Regions from separate parts of the Homo sapiens genome. Here regions 1, 2, 3 and 4 are each reported to be linked to region 5. The links are microRNA targets in miRTarBase. Many come from high-throughput screens and were not tested one by one. Region 5 holds a microRNA gene; each other region holds the end of a gene's coding sequence.
What was found. Region 5 holds the annotated microRNA hsa-miR-6827-3p (ACCGUCUCUUCUGUUCCCCAG, at 1,955-1,975, opposite strand). A microRNA usually pairs through its seed, bases 2 to 8, with sites in the 3' UTR of a target mRNA and lowers its output. Matches are read on the target gene's strand: a 7mer-m8 pairs with bases 2 to 8, a 7mer-A1 pairs with bases 2 to 7 and ends in A, and an 8mer does both.

Region 1: miRTarBase lists FKRP as a target of hsa-miR-6827-3p. Seed matches in the 3' UTR shown: 7mer-m8 at 671-677.
Region 2: the mRNA of DSC3 is a reported target of hsa-miR-6827-3p. Seed matches in the 3' UTR shown: 8mer at 1,373-1,380 and 7mer-m8 at 1,206-1,212.
Region 3: the mRNA of NSG1 is a reported target of hsa-miR-6827-3p. Seed matches in the 3' UTR shown: 7mer-m8 at 951-957.
Region 4: miRTarBase lists CSE1L as a target of hsa-miR-6827-3p. The part of its 3' UTR that is shown has no 7-base or 8-base seed match.

What each region holds. Positions count from the first base shown.
Region 1 is chr19:46,756,543-46,760,903 of GRCh38, forward strand. FKRP (fukutin related protein) reads left to right here. Exons shown (of 4, transcript NM_024301.5): 4 at 1-2,033. The coding sequence ends at 396. Among named protein-coding and RNA genes, the nearest start is that of STRN4, 12 kb to the left of the region's middle.
Region 2 is chr18:30,990,786-30,995,201 of GRCh38, forward strand. It overlaps DSC3 (desmocollin 3), which reads right to left. Exons shown (of 16, transcript NM_001941.5): 16 at 1-3,587. The coding sequence ends at 3,390. Among named protein-coding and RNA genes, the nearest start is that of DSC3, 50 kb to the right of the region's middle.
Region 3 is chr4:4,417,213-4,420,212 of GRCh38, forward strand. It overlaps NSG1 (neuronal vesicle trafficking associated 1), which reads left to right. Exons shown (of 5, transcript NM_014392.5): 5 at 23-1,846. The coding sequence ends at 223. It overlaps STX18 (syntaxin 18), which reads right to left. Exons shown (of 11, transcript NM_016930.4): 11 at 1,756-2,917. The coding sequence ends at 2,822. Among named protein-coding and RNA genes, the nearest start is that of NSG1, 32 kb to the left of the region's middle.
Region 4 is chr20:49,095,352-49,099,767 of GRCh38, reverse strand. It overlaps CSE1L (chromosome segregation 1 like), which reads right to left. Exons shown (of 25, transcript NM_001316.4): 25 at 2,819-3,419. The coding sequence ends at 3,330. Among named protein-coding and RNA genes, the nearest start is that of CSE1L, 51 kb to the right of the region's middle.
Region 5 is chr3:134,365,850-134,370,041 of GRCh38, forward strand. MIR6827 (microRNA 6827) reads right to left here and starts at 2,013; the gene lies at 1,955-2,013. AMOTL2 (angiomotin like 2) reads right to left here. Exons shown (of 10, transcript NM_016201.4): 3 at 1,648-1,954; 4 at 434-578; 5 at 1-60.

The DNA.
Region 1 (4,361 bases), not on the chromosome of region 5:
CTGGGCATCTACTTGGAGGACGTGGGCAACTGCGAGCAGCTGCGGGGGGCAGAGGCCGGCTCGGTGGTGGATGAGCGCGGCTTCGTATGGGAGAAGGCGGTCGAGGGCGACTTTTTCCGCGTGCAGTACAGCGAAAGCAACCACTTGCACGTGGACCTGTGGCCCTTCTACCCCCGCAATGGCGTCATGACCAAGGACACGTGGCTGGACCACCGGCAGGATGTGGAGTTTCCCGAGCACTTCCTGCAGCCGCTGGTGCCCCTGCCCTTTGCCGGCTTCGTGGCGCAGGCGCCTAACAACTACCGCCGCTTCCTGGAGCTCAAGTTCGGGCCCGGGGTCATCGAGAACCCCCAGTACCCCAACCCGGCACTGCTGAGTCTGACGGGAAGCGGCTGAAGCCCTGATAACCTCGCCTTTGTTTTTCGGGGGTCTGTCTGGATGTGGAGAAGCTCTGTGTGAGCGGTGAGGGGTGGAGGGATGTCGCGGAGAGGGGAAGGGGGAAACTGACCAAGAAAGAAATTCTAAGGAGAGCATGAGAGAAGGCTGGCATTGGCAGGAGGAGAGCACCAGGACGAGGATGGGAAGCGACCTCCAGATTTATCAAATGGTCATGCCCACTGGGAGCCGTGGATATGCGTGGGGACATCCTGGGTCATCTCAGTCATGGAGGGAGACGGGGATGTCACGCCGTCCCGCAGGGCCCAGCACAGCCCCAGACCCGAAAAAAGTGTTCTGCCCAAGATTCCGAGAGCCCTGCGCTCTAGGGCAGGGGCAGAGTTTTGGAAACAGTGCAGGCTCTGGAGCCAGACTGGCGAGATTCAAATCCTGGCTCTATCGCTTCGGAGCCAGGTGGGCCTGGGGGGGCGTCGCAGTCTCTCTGTGCCTCAGTTGCTTCCAGGATGCGGGACCCTTGGCTGCAGGGGTTGCTTCCGCCACTAGAGGGCGCGCCGGTCCCGCTCCTGGTGGCCCACTGTGGCTGCCCGGGCGACAGTACGCCCAGGGCCTGTGTTCCATAGCCATCTACTCTCTTGAGCCTTTGGACTTCTCTCCAAGCCCCTGTGGGAGGCGGACAGCAGTGACCACCTCCCCTTCTTTTGGACTGCGACCTCCTTCCCTCCTGGGAGAGCCCTGTGACCTGCATGCTACTCTTAACTGTTCTATTCAAGACTGAATAGAAGTATTTCAGTCTTGCAGAGGAGGAAATGCTCAGAGCTCCGAGGTGCGGCTGTGGTCGAGAACCGGGTGCTGGGCCGGGCGCGGGGGCTCACGCCTGTAATCCCAGCACTTTGGGAGGCCGAGGTGGGAGGATCGCTTGAGCCCAGGAGTCTGAGACCAGCCTCGGCAACATGCCAAGACCCCGTCTCTATTTTTAAAAAAGAAAAAGAACCGACTTCTGAATCGCAGCTCCACTCATGACTAATACCTCATTATTTCAGCTGTCTGCACCTAATTCCCCACTTGCACGGCAGTGTAGACAATAACCATAGCTCACACTCACTGAGCACCTACTGGGTACCAGGCACCATTCTCAGTGTTTCACCTGGATCAACTAATGCGTCCCTCACCTCAGCCCTCTGAAGTGACAGCTGCTATTATTTTCATTACACAGATGAAAAAGCTGAGGCCAGAATCGTGAAGTCACTTGCTCAAGGTCAGGCAGCTTAGGAAGGGGCAGATCGGGGGCTTGAACCCAGGTGGTCAGGCTCTGGAGCCCACAATTGTCTTACCCACTATGCCCCTCTCTAGTCATGGTCCCCAAGAGGGGCTTGGAGACCCACTTAGCAGGTGAAAGCAATGGCAGCCTTCCTTATTTGATTATGCACCTAAGAATAAATGGTATTTGGGCATGTATTCCCAATATGTGTATATTTATTTATAAATATATACAGATACTATTATCTGTATGTTAGTAATAAAGCTTAAATTATTCCATTTTAAAATTATGAATATGAATAGGGTTTTTTTTATGTTTCTTGCCTCATCCCAATGACTTTTGCACACCCAGGTGTGAGCACCCAGCATTCAAGACCACGGGTTAAAAAAAAAAAAAAAAAGCTGGCCGGGCGTGGTGGCTCACGCCTGTGATCCCAACACTTTTGGGAGGCTGAGACAGGAGGAACACTTGAGCTCGGGAGTTCGAGACCAGCCTGAGCAATAGAGCAAGACTCTTGTCAATTAAAAATAATAAATAAAGCCAGGCATGGTGGCTCACGCCTATAATCCCAACACTTTGGGAGCCCAAGGCGGACGGATCACAAGGTCAAGAGATCGAGACCATCCTGGCTAACACAGTGAAACTCCGTCTCTACTAAAAATACAAAAAATTAGCTGGACATGGTGGCGGGCACCTGTAGTCCCAGCTACTCAGGAGGCTGAGGCAGGAGAATGGCATGAACCCGGGAGGCGGAGCTTGCAGTGAGCCAAGATTGTGCCACCGCCCTCCAGCCTGAGCAACAGAGCAAGACTCCATCTCAAAAAAATAAAATAATAAATAAGAGGCAAAATGTTAAAAATAAGCAAGGACTGGGCACAGTGGCTCATGCCTGTAATCCCGGTACTTTCGGAAGCCAAAATTGGAGGATCCTTTAAGGCCAAGAGTTCAAGATCAGCCTGGGCAACATAGCGAGATCCCCTGTCTCTACAAAATAATAAAAAAATAGCCACTGTTTTAGTCCCTTCTCATGCTACTAATAAAGACCTACCTGAGACTGGGTAATTTATAAAGGAGGAAAGGTTTAATCGACCCACAGTTCAGCACGGCTGGGGAGGCCTCATGAAACTTACAATCATGGCAGAAGGGGAAGCAAACACATCTTGTGATGGCAGGAAGAAGAAGTTCCAAGCAAAAGGGGAAAGTTCCTTATAAAACCATTAGATCTCATGAGAACTCACTATCACGAGAATAGCATGGGGGTAACTGCCCCCATGATTCAATTACCTCGCACCCAGTCCCTCCCACGACACATGGGGATTATCAGAACTACAATTCGAGATGAGATTTGGGTGGAAACACAGCCAAACCATATCAGCCAGGCATAATGGCATGCACCTGTAGTCCTAGCTACTGGGGAGGCTGAGGCAGGAGGATTGCTTAAGCCTAGGAGATCAAGACTGCAGTGAGCTCTGATTGCACCTCTGCACTCCAGCCTCGGCAACAGAGCATTATCCCATCCCCCCACAAAAAAAAAGAAAAAAAGAAAAGACATGGGCTTGAGGTTGGAGAGGACCGGGTTTCCCAGTGCTGCCACCTTCTCCCAGGGCCTCTATTGACTCTGTCTCTGCGCCCCCACCTTGCATTTGGGAAGTGGAAGCAATGAGATCGCTCCTCCCACAGGAGTGTGTTCGCGGTAAAGGGGCCCAGAGTCTGGCTGGGTTTGAATCCTGGCTTGGCCACTTGGTTTCTTTGTACTCTCAGACAAGTCGCTGCCTCTCTGAACCTGTAAACTGGGGAGATTGGTAATATTTCACAATTGTACATTCCTGGGAGGAGGAGGCTTCATAGACCAGCAAGAGAAGATTACTGTTTGGCCGAGTCTCCTGAGGCTCAGACATCCAAAGCCTGACTTCTTGTAACCCAACCCCTGCTTTTAACCACTGAACCCAAAAATGGTTCACAAAGAGACTTGGCAGGTCCACAGGGAGGATTCTGGAATGCATGGGGATGATTTGCATTATCATCATGACTGGAAGCTGCTCTTGGCTCTTGGCAGACGTGGTCCAGGGATGCAGATGTCTTGTAATATTCAGGAATCTCCACACAGTACAGCATCATCCCTTGTCTCATGCAGCTTCCAGATGTCTCATTGGACATTCACGAAGGAAGGGTAATATTCAAAATGTTTTGCCACTGGTACTGTAATATAAATTAGTATATGTCAATGTATGCATCAAATTTTTAAAATATTTTAGGCCAGGCATAGTGTAATCCCAGCACCTTGGGAGGCCAAGACAGGAGGATGGCTTGAAGCCAGGAATTCGAGACCAGCCTGGGCAACATAGAGAGACCCTCATCTCTACAAAACATTTCAAAAATTGAGCAGGGCGTGGTGGTTTACACCATTAATCCCAGCACTTTGGAAGGCCGAGGCAGGTGAATTGCTTGAGCCCAGGAGTTCAAGACCAGACTAGGGGCCAGGCGGGGTGGCTCATGCCTGTAATCCCACCACTTTGGGAGGCTGAGGCGGGCAGATCACTTGAAGCCAGGAGTTCAAGACCAGCCTGGCCAACAAGGCAAAACCATGTCTCTACTAAAAATACAGCAATTAGCTGGGCGTGGTGGTGCACCCCTGCAGTCCCAGCTACTCAGGATGCTGAGGTGGGAGGATCACCTGAGCCCAGGAGGTCAAGGCTACAGTGAGCCA
Region 2 (4,416 bases), not on the chromosome of region 5:
AACCACCTTCTAATACTTTTAATACCCAATCAAAATTTATTATACATATGTATCATAGATACTCATCTGTAAAGCTGTGCTTCAAAATAGTGATCTCTTCCCAACATTACAATATATATTAATGATGTCGACAATTTGATAATGAAACATTGTCCAAAATATTCCCCATTAATACAACAAAGACATAATTATTTCTATTTCCATGCCAGCCATAAGCATAATTTTGCAAAGTGATCATCTTAGAATTATTTAATCTCTAAATACAGCAAAAACAAGAAACCAAGTTAATATTGTTTTATTACATCTCCCCACATCTGTAAATATTACTTTACGCATCCAATTTTTGCTTATTTTAAGCAGCCAAGTTTCTTTAAAAGCAAAGTAACTTCTTTTAATAGCAATACTAAAACTCTGTTTAAAACATTGCAAAACAAACCCCACTGCATTTTAGACAGCTGCTTCCTTATAAAAGTAAGAAAAAACATTCTGTATATTTACATAAAAAATTCTAAATCATTCACTGGGGGAAAAATGAAAGCTTTAAAAATATATTTTCTTGCACACTCAAATACCATAAATTTCACCTTACACATATAAGGAAATAATAATACTACATATGTGAAAATATAGAAATGAATCCCTAAAATTAAATTTTCATTTGAGAGAAAAGAATTACAAATTCGGGCATACATGCAGACCAGGTGGTTTTCAGCATGTTCAAAGAACAAAGAGATGGTTAGAGGTTTTATAAACAGGGAAGTGATACTGGTTGCTCTTTGAGAAAGTTTATCGGCACTAGTAAAGTCTTGGGGAGGTAGCAGGTTTTGATCGGTGAGTGAGGGAGTGAGCAAAACACAGTGGGTGTTTCAGTAGCCGTTAGATAAAACTGGCTTCTGGATACAGCAGGAAATTTCAGCAACTAGGCTTACAGAGAATTCCATTCTCAGACCAATATTTTGTGCCCTGAGTTCTTTCTCCCCCTGGCTTCTCGACTGTCTTTTGGTTGAGTATTTCAAGATTGATCCAATTCGTATGATCAACTTTCACACATGTTCAAAATGATTACATTAAAAGAAGACGACTTTAAACGGAAAACAAGGCCGGGAGCGGTGGGTCATGCCTGTAATCCCAGCACTTTGGGAGGCCGAGGCAGGCGGATCACGAGGTCAGGAGATCGAGACCATCCTGGCTAACACAGTGAAACCCCGTCTCTATTAAAAATACAAAAAATTAGCCGGGCGTGGTGGTGGGCGCCTGTAGTCCCAGCTACTCAGGAGGCTGAGGCAGGAGAATGGCGTGAACCCGGGAGGCGGAGCTTTCAGTGAGCAGAGATCGGAGCCACTGCACTCCAGCCTGTGCGTCAGAGCGAGACTCCGTCTCAAAAAAAAAAGGGGGGGGGGGGGGCAATAAAAAGTCTAAGTCTAAAACACATAGATTTTAGGGTCAAATTAGAAAACAGAAAATGTAGGAATAAATCAGAATTTTAGATAGGCATTTAATTCATAGACCTTCTTAGTGCCCAGAAGGAGGGCTGCAGAAGGAATACAACAATTCCCATGAATGCCTTGTTTGTTCTGCACAACCAGTTCAGGCTCATCCTGCAAATGCCTTCAGACTCATCATGCAGTCAGCTCTGTCTCCTTGATTTCTCACTCCAAATAAGGTGAGCCATAGAGAAGAGGTTGGCTGATCCCTCACCGGACTCAAATGGCAGTTGCCATTGGCCTGAGAAAGGAAAAGGCAGTGCCAAGCCTAGGAAAAAGTATGAAGCAGACGATGTTGCTTTTACTCCCACCCATATTCCTTGTGGCCTCTCCTTGCCCTTGAAGGCCTGCATCTTCCTGTTGCCCTCTGACTGTACAAATAACCTACTTGGGCTGCTTTCTCCCAAAGTTCCCTCTGTTCTAAAATGACAACTTGATCTTTTTCTTTTATACATTCAAAATTTCTATTTCTTCTATTATTTTAAAATTTCTCTGGAGAAAGCAAACTGATTAAAAATTAATTCACGCTGAAGGATGGTGGAAAACCTGGAGTCACTTAAGGGAATCTCTGCTGGAGGTGTTGCTTTAGCAGAAAGCCGAAAGAAGGGGGCCCACAAGGCCTGGCTTTCCTTGATTCAGGCCAATGCCACTCAGAAGAAGGGCAGTGAGGAGAAAAATGAAATTTTGTAGCTCCCAGACCTGATCAGGTGTCAAGTTTGTGGGGCTTAGGTTTAAGGACAATCAATCTCCCCAGGGTGCTTTCAGTAAGATCCTCCCCTCAGCTCCCTCTAGCCTCTAAACTCTAGGAGGACATGGTTATTTGGATCTAAATTAAAAAGATGTTGGTCACTATAAGAGAGAATAGAAACAGCAATAGAGGATTTAACTTCAGTAAAGGTAAGTTTTAAAATGTTTTTGTTATTAGCTCCCCGAAAAAAACACCTCATCTCTGGACCCTTGCTACCAAAAAGCAGGGAACCCCAGCTGCAGCGAGTATTCCCCAGTTTGCTACTAACTTGTGGATGCAGAAATCTTGAAACAGACTGCAAAGCAAAGCTACTGTTCCATTGGATTCCCTATTTCCTTCCCACAGAAACCAGAAAAGTTTAATTTATTTACAATTTTAAACAAATTACACAAATTGGACAGGAACTATTTCCTCATAGACTCAGTTATAATGCAGCATTTAAGAGCCCAGGCCTAGGAAGCTCTCTCTTTTTTCTATTGTAGGACAAACTATACCCCAGCCTCATTTCAAGTTTTTACCATTTTCCTCTTTGTTCTCATTTCATTTTAAATATTGCATTGATTAATAATAATATACACACACACATTTATTTCCAACTATATTCCTATAGAAAATTGCTACTTCATAGGGCACTTCAACACATTTTGCCTCCAAAGTCAAATGAATTTGGTAGTGCAGTAGGGGTGAGTCCCAATTCTTTATGAGCTGCAACATTTTTAATTTAATTCAGTCTTCATTGTTTCTTTTCCAAAACTTTCTTCACATAGTGATACTCAATATTTCTTGTTTATTTTTTAAACTATCACTTAAAGTGAATACATAATAATGTGATATTAGCATAACTTAGCTATTGTTGGACTAATATTTATCCAGCATATTTATTACTAAAATATCCGTAAAAAAAAAAAAGAGCAGATGCTTTAGAGACCTTAATTCCAGTGCTGGAGTTTGAGATTTACCAGTTGTCTGTTTTAACATTTTTCACTTTTTGGAAAAGATAAGCAACAACTTGCTTTAAAAATATAAATTGGTGAGTAGCATAATTCAAAATTGAGAAAAAAATCATCATATACATACATGTTGAAATTGAACTTTACAATATTATTTTTGGAAACCTCCAGAATGTCTGACAAAGACCTAATTGTAGCACTGTGACATTATCTCTTTGTGCATGCTTCTGCTAATGTAATAAATTTGGGTTCCAAATTATTTAAAAAGTCAAGGCCATCTTCTTCCTGCTTTTCACTGCAGCAGCCCACAGAACCAGCTGGAGATCCTCTTCCCTCATAGTTATAAGTGAGGACATAATCTTGGGATGGCATGCGGTCTTCATTCTGATTACATCGATGCAATTTCTGTAAAATTTTTTAAAAAATGAATTGCATTATAGTTTTAAACAACTTAAATATATGAACATAAAATTTATTTTTATTTACCTTTTATGTTTAATTTTTAACCAGTGTGTCCTCTAATGGATTCCTACACACAGAAAATGCAAATGATTGGTCTATATCACAACCATACCATAAAGTCAGTATAGTTTACATTTCTAGTGCTCCATATAAATAAAAAATTATGTATACAAGTTTTATATTTAAGTACATTCAAGTTGTCATTAAATGCTTATCCCTAAATTTTATACACAGAGGTCAGTCTAGTCTAAAAAATAGAGACAATAGTCATACTGGTTAGGAGTTTGAGATAGGATGTCAAACAGCCTTGGTTGTGAGTCAAAGCTCTGGCTTTACCAACTAGCTATATGACTTTGGGCAAGTGACCAAATATCCTTTAGTCTCAGTGACCACCTAACAAGATTATTTTAGAAATTAATGACAAAATAATGACGCATAATACACTTATTATGCCCAGCACATATTAAAGGTACAATACATGTTAACTTGAATCACTATTATATGCAGTTATAAACTAGGTAGGATTTACCACATTAACTTCAGAAGCAAGTTTCCAAGATACTCAAACATGGCAAAATATATACATGCATCGAAAAGTTCAATGAAATTAAAAAGAATGAACATGACCCATATTGCAAAAACTGGGCTTTTATAATGAAGACGCCATGCATTCAGCCACATCTACCCTCTCTGCCACTGGCCTGTCTGCCAACTCGTCAACTGCCATGTCTCCTCCCTTTCCTCACCTGTGTGCCCACTCCTTGCCTATGTG
Region 3 (3,000 bases), not on the chromosome of region 5:
TCAGTGGCCTCTTGTCTTTCAGAACACCCAGTGCATCCCAGAAGGCTTGGAGAGCTACTACGCGGAGCAAGACTCCAGTGCCCGGGAGAAATTTTACACAGTCATAAACCACTACAACCTGGCCAAGCAGAGCATCACGCGCTCCGTATCGCCCTGGATGTCAGTTCTGTCAGAAGAGAAGCTGTCCGAGCAGGAGACTGAAGCGGCTGAGAAGTCAGCTTAGCGGGATGGGCAAGTTCCTTACAATGTGTCACTTGCAAATAACAAAGGGACTTTGAGGGACATTTCATTAAATATAATTACTGATACTTTAGAGGTTACTCATTTACGGTGCAATTGCTTCTGTTTGCTAATGCTGCTTTGCAAATAAAACTTGCTGCCGACCACCCACGGGCATAAAATCAAGTGCATTTCAGCATTGCCTAAAGAGCTCTGACACCACTTTTCATGTTAAGATCTTCATTTAGCTCCTTTACTGGGATTTATTGGATGCTGTAAAAAAATAAATTTACACTGGATATGCGAAGGGTTTGGATCTCAGATAAATGCATTTTGTGGAATTGATTTTCTGAACCGACCCTGCTGTCTGCAAACCTTCCTCCATAGCCATATCTAGAGTGATCTCTCGCTGTGCTAAGAGCAAGCCTACTTCGCATTTCTTCCTCGGCCATCAGCGGGTAACAGTGCTGACTGCTGCCAAGGTGCACTGTAGTAAGTAAGTGGCATAGAGAACGAGGAAAAAGACCCCCCCACCCCTCCCTGTGCTGACTCCTGAGTCGGGGTGGGACGGCCCTGCAATGTGGCAGGCTCGGTGTGGATTGACTACTCCCTCCCCTCTGACTCTGGCATCTTGGTAAGGAGGGAGGGGCACCACCCATCTGGGTGGAGACAGCTGGGGTTTGCTCCAGTGTGTGTAGACTGGCAGAGCATGTGAGGGAGAGGGCTGGGAAGAGACGGCCCTGGGCCCGTGAGGTGCAGAACTCTCCCTGCAGGTAGTCTGTCTGCTCTGTGATGTGCTGATAGGAAAGAGCCCCCACTGGCCCTCTGGTTCACTTCTATTATGAATAAATTTGCACCAATAGCCCCATTAGTTTTTAAAGAAATGAGCTGGGTGGGAAAAGTGGAAATGTAATTTCTGGTAAGCTTGAGCTACTTTAATTTTTATTCTATGAAACTGATATCCCTTGATGTGGGAAACAGGCAGGAAAGGCTGTGGGGTGGGGGTGGGGGACTGGTGTGGCACCGTGCAAACAAAATGACAAATTTCAACTCACAATCTTTGTAAGAAAATTGTTCCAGTTTGAATCTTGATATTAAAGTTTATGTTTACAAAACTGCCAGTTAGATGAACTAAGTGTGTAAAACAAATAGAAAAGACATTCGCAGACATTTCTTCTATGTTATTGAATGTGTTGTTTCTGGTGTACGTGTCAAAAGTTTCAGTTTTTTAGATCAGAAATAAACGACAAATAGTGTGAGATGTGTTGTGAACAGGCATGGTGACCGTGGTCAGCGCCACTCTTGTTTCCTGAAATGTGCTTCTAAGACAGAAAATGTATTTTCTCATCAAGGGTGTCTGGAGACACAGACCGTGACCTTGGCGCAGCGGTGTGCATCAGAGGCGTGTGCTGAGAAGGGTGGTGTTAAGCTGTGGAAAATGACTCAAGAGCAATAAATCAGTGCCAAAGCTTCCCTGCGCATCTGAATAGACACAAGTGAAGCCCGTGTGCGCACAGTGCAGAGGCCGAGCCTGTATTTCCAGGTAGACGTGGACTTTATTGACTGTGAATTCATTTACATGTAACTTCTGACATTTCACTCTGTGCAAATAAAGAACATGAGGATACCTGTGCTGCCCAGTGGACTGTCTGTACACACACGCATTTCACCAGGCGCAGTGCAGACTGTCTCATGCCCATGTGGGCGCTGGGATGCTTCCTGTACAGATGTCTCATGCCTTCAGTTACACATAGGTGTTCCTGTTTACAGTTCCTGGAGGTCAGAAGCACAGGCACGAGAGAAGCAGGCCCGTTCTTCCGTGGCCCACTTCTTCCTTTGAACAAAGGCTCCTTGGACCCAGTGGCGGGAAACTGGCCCTCCCACACCCCCTGCCTGTTCTGGGGGCAGCAGTCTTTGGAGGAGTAATGCCAGGCAGCCCCTCACTGAGGGCCCCAGTCTCCCCTGCATTTCTTCCCTGATTGATTGATAGGAGGTGGCTGGGCTGCCACTGAATTTGTCAACTTAGACTCATTGACAACACATTAAGGGGCTGTAATTATATTTATTAGATTAACAAGGCAGATGTGAATTTTCTCTTCTATAATCCAGTAAGTCTGTGTATTCGTTGACTCAGACAGACAAGAAGCCACAAGGAAACAAAGAAGTAATCATTTGTTGAGAGACGTTATTAACTATGATCTTCCCTGAAGCTACCGGGATGGGAAAGGTCAGTGTCTTCCTTTGAACCCTGAGACAATTAGGGGCTCTTGAGGCCTGCTGTGCCCCTGCTGCCAAGGCAGCCTCAAGTTCAAGGAGCAGCTAATCACCCACTCCTGCATTCAGTCTGTCTTGCCTGATGAGGGCTACGCAGGCTGCCTCCCATTGGTGTGCACTGTTTCCTTTTTCAGCTGCTAAATGGCTGAACACCATCGGCCTGGGGTATCCCTTTTTGGGGAATACGTCTGTCTGTCTGAACTCCTTTCCCTTCAAATGGCACTGTGATAAAATCTGGTCATACCATGCTCCAGCACTGGAAGTACATGAAAGCACGCAGTCTGTGAGTGCCCATGAGGACTCTCGTGCTGGGCCCCCGTGGCCCTGGCTAGCTGTCGTACCAGTCGAGGAAGAGCAAGGAGAAGGAGCACATCACGAGGAAGAAGAGGATCCACACGCGGAAGCCAGCGTTGTTTTTAATGGCCTGGGCAGGGACGGGAGCACAGGTGTTTTTATCACACAGGATTTTGGTTTGAGCAGCCCTGAAATGCCCCCCTCTTCCCACGT
Region 4 (4,416 bases), not on the chromosome of region 5:
TTTTTCTTTATTTTCCAAGTTTCCCACAAAGAAAATACATTTAAAATAAAAAGTCGGTGGCCAGATGTGGTGGCTCACACCTGTACTCCCAGCACTTTGGGAGGCCGAGGCAGGTGGATCACTTGAGGTCAGGAGTTTGAGACCAGCCTGACAAAACATGGTGAAACCCTGTCTCTACTAAAAATACAAAAGTTAGCTGGGCGTGGTGGCGCGTGCCTGTAATTCCAGCTACTCGGGAGGCTGAGGCTGGGGAATCACTTGAAACCAGGAGGTGGAGGTTGCAGTGAGCCGAGATCACGCCTCTGCACTTCAGCCTGGGCTGAGCAAGACTCCATCTCAAAAAAATAAATACATAAAAATAATTTAAAAACTCAATTATTTAAAAATCAGCTTGTTAAAAGACATGATTGAATACCATGGAGAATGAATGCACCTAGCAGGAAGCTCTGATGAGAAACCTGGCAATACTTCCCTTCTGTAAAAACACCCTGGGGTACAGGTGGGGCCGCCCATGCCAGGACTCTTCTCCACAAAGCCTTCCCGCCTTCCAGGTATGCAGCACATTGGTAAGTGTGCTCAGTAACAAACGCTTCCTCCCACCCAAGCCCTCTGCTCCCCCAGCAGCTTTTCCTGATGTGTGCTTACTCTGCACAGGTTCTCTGCTTGAGTACTCTACATGCATCATCTCATTTTATTCTTACAACCACCTTGAAGGTAAATAATATGCTCATTTTTCAGAAGAGAAAAAAAAGGCATAGAGGTCAACTCATTTGCTCAAGGTCATAGTCAGTAGCAGTGCTGTAACTCAAACCCTGATCTTCATACCCACAGTGTGCATCACCACTGAGCTACAGTCAGTAAGGCTTGTGAAGAAAAAAGAAAAAAACCACTCCAGCAGTTTCTGTCCACCATGTCCTAAAATCTTTAAAGCCAGATATAAAAACTGTCTTGGACGATTGAATAAGCAACTTCAATAGAAGGCATTTAAAAAAATTATTTGATAATTAATGAACTGTGCTAAAGTAAGTAAATGTACTAGTCTTGCTGTTCAGTAACTATTTTAAAAGGCACACCATCTACTACTCAGCCTTTTGAACTGAAGAAGGAAAACGTTTCGAACTCGATCTGAGTTTAAGATGTTGAATCAAGCAGCCTCCAGAACGGTATCTGACTGACTGTTCACAAGCAGCTTCAGGAAGAGCAAAGCCAAATAAATACTTAAGGAGCTCATGTGAGTGAAAAACATACAGAAACCATCACTAGCAATTCCCTGTTGTCCCAGACTTTCCAAATAAATTGTGGCTTAAAAATGGCTTCAGTAATATTTCAGTATCTTTCTACCAACGACCACTTAAGCCAAAGTAATAACGTAAAATGTAGTATTCCCATTACTGTGTCAAAACCAACAACAACAACAACAACAACAACAACAACAACAACAACAAAAAGCCCTTAAATGACTAGATGGTACAAATAGACTTAAGAGAACTTGAAATTTCTCATGCAACATTACAGAAACAAGTGGCTGGGCACAGTGGCTCAAGCCTCTAATCCCAGCACTTTGGTAAGCCGAGGCAGGCGGATCACAAGGTCAGGAGTTTGAAACCAGCCTGGCCAACATGGTGAAACCCTGTCTCTACTAAAAATACAAAAAATAGCCAGGCATGGTGATGCATGCCTGTATCCCAGCTACTCAGGAGGCTGAGGCAGGAGAATCGCTTGAACCTGGGAGGCGGAGGTTGCAGTCAGCTGAGATTGTGCCACTGCACTCCAGCCTGGGCAAGAGTGAGACTCCGTCTCAAAAAAAAAAAAAAAAAAAAAAAAAAAAATTCAAAATAAGAAAAACCATTCGAGTCAAGTGCCTAAGATTAAAAAAGTTATCACCAGGCACAGTGGCTCACGCGTGTAATCCCAGCACTTTGGGAGGCCGAGGCAGGCAGATCATGAGGTCAGGAGTTCGAGACCAGCCTGACAAATATGGTGAAACCCCATCTCTAATAAAAATACAAAAATTAGCTGGGCGTGGTGGCGGACGCCTGTAATCCCAGCTACTCGAGAGGCTGAGGCAGGAGAATTGCTCAAACCCAGGAAGTGGAGGTTGCAGTGAACTGAGATTGTGCCACTGCACTCCAGCCTGGTCAACAGAACAAGACTCTTATCTTGGGGGTAAAAAAGAAAAAAAAAAGGGATATCGATAACTCCTGTGACAAATCACTTGAGCTGGGAAGACAAAAGTTCCAGTTTAACTACACTGAATGGACAATGAACAATTCCAGCATAAACTGTGCCTCACAAAATTTAGATATTCTGATTCTTCATTCCTCAGAAACGAATGCTGTACAATTCCATGGGCCAGGCCAAGGGAGGGAGCCAGTGCAACCAAGCTCACCAGGCATCCGGCCGGATCCACCACTGGACTGGACTTCACGGTTCTAAGGTGTCAGGGTTTGAAAAGTTCCAAGTAACCTCCACTCTCCAGGGAACAGCAGAGATGAAAGAGATCAAAACATCCACAGTCTCAAGTACTCTCGACCGCCATCCCATTAAGCGAGGCAGAGCATTTCTCCCAGAGGAGCCACCTACCCAAAACTCACACTGCCACCTAGGAACTGCTACAGAAAATTCTAGTAAATAAGCCCCAAATCTATATTAATGTCCCCTTCCCCCATATAAAAAAAAAGACTAAATAATCTGAGTTTACATGATTTAGAAATTAGGATTTTACAGAGTCCAGGAAAGGAAAAGGAAGAAATTTAAAGAAATTCTTCATTTTTATAAAAGCATGAGAGAGCACTGAAAACCTGCCCTTAAGATGTTCTTAGGTACATATTTTAGGATTTTTATTGCTGATTACAGATTTGAAACTATGAAATGTGCACTGCTTGGCAAGTAACACAAGTAATTCTTTACTTATTCACATTTCCAATAAAAGCGTAAATAAACAGACAAAAAATATAAAGGACAAGAGAAATACAAATAGCAACAGCTTCAAAACAAAAGGATTTAGTAACAGAAAGTCTCCACAGTGTCCGTCAAAATTTAAGATTATCCAAACCGTGCAAACGCTCAACACAAACCAACGCCATACACTGAACTATTAATACTTGTCCCTTGAAGTTGCAAACTAGAAGCCACCCACATAACTGTATGATCACACAAACCAACTAATTTGCTCAAGGTTCAGGTTAAAGCAACATTTAATATCCTTTACAAGATGGAATTCGTGACAAGTTCAAAAGGAGAACTTCCTTTGTTTTAATGCAGCTGTGCTCAGAAGCCTGTGATTTCCTAGGAAACCATCTGGGTTTAGCCCATTAGAAAAATGCAGTTTAAAGCAGTGTCACACTGGCTGCCTGAAGGTACCCTTGGAGATACTGGAGCGCTTCTGCATTCAGGCTGGTGCTCACCATTGATGGAACCTACAAGAGATGGGAAACACACACTGGCTGTTGGAGATCTTGGTGCGCCAATACAAACCCCATCTTCTACGGGAGAGCTGCCACAGCTCTGGGAAGAGCAGCCAGTCAAGTCATTAATCACCATCCAAAAATTCTCCAGAAACTCAACTGCTTTTATGCCTTCAAAAATAGGTCTAAAGAAAAGATCCATAAGGAATTACTATTATTAGGTGTGATAGTGGTATTGTGGTTAATTAAAAAGTCCTTACTGGTTAATGATGTAGAATAAGGTACTTACGCGTGAAACGTATGATGTCTAAGACTTGCTCAATACAGAGAATAAAAGGAGAAACGAAACAAAACTGGCAAGATATTGGTAATTATTGAAGCTGGGCACATGCAGGCTTCATTATGCTCTTTCTATATATGTTTGAAAGTCTCCGTAATAATACAATGAAAAAATATATATACATATATATACACACGCCACACACATATATGTTTTTTAAGAAACGGGACCTCGCTCTGTTGCCCAGGCTGGATTGCAGTGGCACTGTAATAGCTCACTGCAGCCCTGGCCTCCCAAAGCACTAGAACTACAGGCATAAACCACTGTGTCTGGCTTGAAAAATATATATTTTATCAGGTAACATGTAAGAACTCTATAATAAGTGCTGACAAAATGCAACTATACAGTCATTATTAGGTTTATGCCATGATCTATTAATTTCTGAGTATGCTGCAATTAAAAAAAAATAACTGTGTCCAGGCTCACACTTGTAATCCCAGCACTTTGGGAGGCTGAGGGAGGAGGATGGCTTGAGCCCAGGAGGTTGAGACCAACCTGAACAACATAGGGAGACCCTGTCTCCACAAAAAAATAAAAAATTAGCTGGGCATAGTGGGTCCTAGCTACTTGGAAGGCTGACAGGCAGTAGGATCACTTGAACCTGGGAGGTTGAGGCTGCAGTGAGCCATAATCGTACTACTGCATTCCAGCCTGGATAAGAGTGAGACC
Region 5 (4,192 bases):
TGCCGGCCTGGGCCTCCTGTGTCTTGCTTGCCAGGCGGCGATTTGCAGATTCCAATCTCTCTGTTTCAAGGGAAGGAAAGATGTTTTAGTGTCAGGTGAAGCTGCCAGCTTGGGATTTTTCCTGACGTCCTATCAGGATGGGGCTGTATCCTCCATATTGGGGATGGGTTCATAAGGAAACCCCAGCTCAGCTCAGGGCCCCATGGGTGGGAGCCTCCTCTGTCAAGAGCCATCATCCCTGAGGGGATCCTAGGCCCAGTACATAGAGACAAGCATCTCTCTATCAGGGCAGCTCCAAAGGGGTCTCAGCCTGGCTCTCTGAGTTCATCTGCACTTTTGACAGAGAATAGAGATTCCCAATTTTTCTCTAGAACAAAAGAAGTAAGTCCTCTGCAGAGGTTCTCCAACCTCCACCTGTGTGACTGGCTCTCACCTCTAAGATCCCGGTTGAAGTCTTGCAGCCTCCTCATTTCACTGTCCATCTTGTTCCGCATGGTCTTCTCCAGGGCCTCACGCTTGGAGGAGGCTCTGGTCAGGCTCTCATGGGCCTCAGAGAGCCGCTGGATTTCGCTTTCCAGCTGCAAGAGTCAGACAGCAGAGCTGAATGAAGGCGAGAGCTCCCAGGGAGTGATTCGAGGCTGACCCACTACTCTCCATCAGAAAAGGTGACAGATGAGAGGCCACCAAACAGGAGCAAAACCTCCAGGTGACTATGGTGGGATGGTCAGAAGCTTGTAGCCTCCGGAAGTAGAATAGACTGCTGGGACCAGCAAGCAACGGTCCCATCGGCTGCCCCAAGGACCAGATGCTGAGTGAACCCAGGGCCAGGTACTTTGGAAGTAGCTGCCTGCGGGGTGACTAAACACAGCTTCCCTGTGCCCAGTGTCCAGAAGGAAACATTCTACTCTTGGCTGGCTTCCACCAAGAAACTGAGTACAGTTGGCCAGAAGTGGGCACCGAAAGACTCCAGCCATGATGGGGTGGTTTGACCTAACTTGGACACCACAGGACAGTCAAGGGAGGCCTGAGGCCATCTGCTAAAACTGAGCCTCAGCGGAAAACTGGTAACCCTTCACTAAAGAAGCGGGCACCAGGCAGAGCTGCCTCTGCCTGGTGTCCCAGGCATCACCATCCACCCAGAGGGCCAGCTGGGCCCCGGCTGCTCCTCCCACTTGGCTGCTGGCAGGTTCCGCACGTGCTCTTAGCTGGCCTGTGATTCCAACAAGTCGCCCATTTTTTTTCCAAGAGGAGAAGTTTTCTTTTTGGCCAGGGCTGGCCTGGAACAGACTTGCTGTTGTGTGGGGGACACAAAGGGCTCTCTGTGGGAGGTGTCCATGGGAGGGGGTGTGTGCAGGGCAAGGGTGCGAGTGTGCAAGGAGCTGGTGAATGGGCTCTTTCTAATCACCACTGGCCAGCAACTGTTCATGCTCCAGGCCTGCTCTGCCGGCCTCTCGGCTGTTCCCCAGCTGTCTGGAGTCAGCTCAGGAGGGTGCATGAGGAGTGAGGGAGGTGGAAGACAGAGGGATAGGGAGAAATCCAGCCAAACAGTTTTCAGGCTCCTCTGCCTCTCCTTGGACTACCCACTCCCCAGGTAGCCCCTCGGGGTCTCTTTCTGGTCTGCCCTTCTGAAGCCCCAGCAGGGCCTACCTTCTCAATGCGGCCAGCCTTCTCCGCAGAGCTCTCCAGCTCCCTCTGCAGCCGCTCATTGTCTCTCTGCAGCCTGGCATTCTCCCTCAGCACGGCCTCCATCTGGGCCAGGTGGGCACTGCCCGAGGTGGCTGAGGAGGCCTGGGCACTCACTGGCCCCTCCACAGCAGGTGGACTGAGGGAGCTCAGGGGGCCATGGCCGAGAGCAGCTGGATGTGGGGGAGGGGGGTGCTCCTGAGATTGCTGCAGGTACTGGTACTGCTGCTGCTGTTGGAGGAACACAGGAGGCACCTGGGCCTGCAGGATCCTGGGGAACAGAAGAGACGGTGCTCAGAGACAGCACAGACCCTCATGGCTCCCACCAGAGCAGCCCGGGGTCACCCCACTCCTAGGCATACTGGGAAGATGGTTAATTATTATCAATAATTAATATATTATTAAAATTACTGCAGATAATTATTCAACCCTCTAGTGTTAGGCAGGGACCAGTAGGGAAGGCCTTTTCCAAATGTTTCTGCCTGAGGCTCTCAAGAGTCAGACAGCAGGGCTAGAGGGGATTAATGTCAGGATGCTTGTTTCATACCCGCCTCACAGTGGCTGGGGCCTTGGGGATCAGCCTGAGCAATCCTGGGCCTCCTAAGCAACTAATGCTTAAATACATCATCTTAAAAAATGCACCCTGACACTTCTAATCAATGGAAGGTTATTTTTGGGGCTGGAGGCCATGTCAATCATGACTGAGCATATAACCTTCCAGGCCCCAGGACAACTTTGGTGGCTGGGCCCCAGCAGCAACCTTGTGTCTATTACACGAGTCGCCAGTTTCAAGACTGCCAAAGCAGCACTCATTTTCTCCTTCCTATTTCAAGTCCTGCCACCCCCCACCCCCCACTCACCCAGAGTCATTTTTAGAAGACTCCAGTTAAGGTTAGAGCAATGAGACAAATGTCAGGGTAAGAGTCTGAGCTCTAGAGTCTGACAAATAGGGGTTCAAATCCCTGCTCCAGCTGTTTAACCTTGGGCGAGTGCCTCAGCCCCACAGACTGGGCATTGCTCTGTTGCATCATGAGGGTCTCCAGCCTCGCTGGGATTTGTTGAGGATGACGCTATGTAAGGCCTGGCAGAGTGCTGGGCCAGTGCTGGGCGGGTGGCAGGTGCTCCTATAATGGTGGCCCATCCTCCATCTCTTCTAGTAGGAGCCTCAGTTTACCCTCAGTTTAGAGAACAAATGTGGCCCAAACTCTTGGTTTCCTTGGGAGTAAGGGCTGCCTCTGGACTACTGTGGTCACTGAGTTCAGGGGACAATATTCTATTGGCCTCTGGCACTGGTGTAACATCACCCCCAGGGCTCCATGTTGAGGGAAGGAGCAAAGGGCAAGAGGCACGGGGAGTCCAAGGGCCTTCCTGGGACCTTGTGATTCCCAGTGTCACAACTGCCTCAGTTTCACAAAGAATCTTCCAAGTCCCAGAAGCCCCGCAAAAACCGAATTCCCCTTCTGGGTGCATCATCTCAGCACTAATGCACACCCAGCCTGCCCCTGACTCTTGCTGCCATGCAGCCTATGGCCCCCCTGCTCTTCTCAGGACCCTAGGCTAGGAGTCTAGCCCGTTTCCTAACAAATAATCTTCACTGGATCATCTGAAAGGAGATATTGGGCAGATGTATTTCTCCTACTACCTAAGGTGGGGCTTCCAGTAAGAGCTGGGAAGAGGGTCCCCACTGGAGTGCTCAAACTCTCCATTCCACTGCTAAAATGGCCATTCTCAAGGTTGCTTCAAGAACTTGCTCCCCCCTGCACTGGGCCAGGCAGACACAACTGGCATTCTTTGGGGATGACTTAGCTCTGAGAAAGAATAGCAACTCCTTTCCCTTCACACTTGCTTTCCTTTCTCCTCGTCCTCTCCCTCCCCTGCTTTTTGTTCTCCTGCAAACAGTCTACTTCCTTGCCGTGATTACTATCTTTTCCTGACAGGGTTCAATAAGGCTGGTCCAAAAGAAGAAACCACCACTCAGCTTCCGAAACTCTTCCTGACCGAGCCCTGAGAGGGGCGATAAAGTGCGAGTCTGGAGGGGTGGAGGCTGGAGAAAAACTATGAGGCTCCAACCTCTGGTTCCGCCATACCAACCCCATCATGTCACTCATTTCTCGAGAGCAAGGAAAGCCGGACGGTGGGAAAGTGGGTGTTTACTAAAGGAACACAGCAGGCATGAAGAGAACCAGACTTTGACCTTGGGCCACCAGAGGAAGAGTCTGAAATCCTTGGGGTCCCTTGGTGGGGTTTCTTGGACTCCCATAGGGGGAGATGCAGCAGTGATGGCTGTGTCTGCTTCTCTGGAAAAGATGCTGGGCAAGATGAGAAGCGTGAGGCAGGGCCTTGTTTCTAGGAACACTTATTTCTCCAAACTCTCTAGACTTCTTGCCTCCCCGGGTCTTCCTGCTTCCATTCTGGCCCCTTACAAACCATGCTCTGCATGTAGCCAGAGAGAGCATTTAGAAAAGGTAAACCAAATCACATCCCCTGAGGGCCTCCCAGCACACTCAGA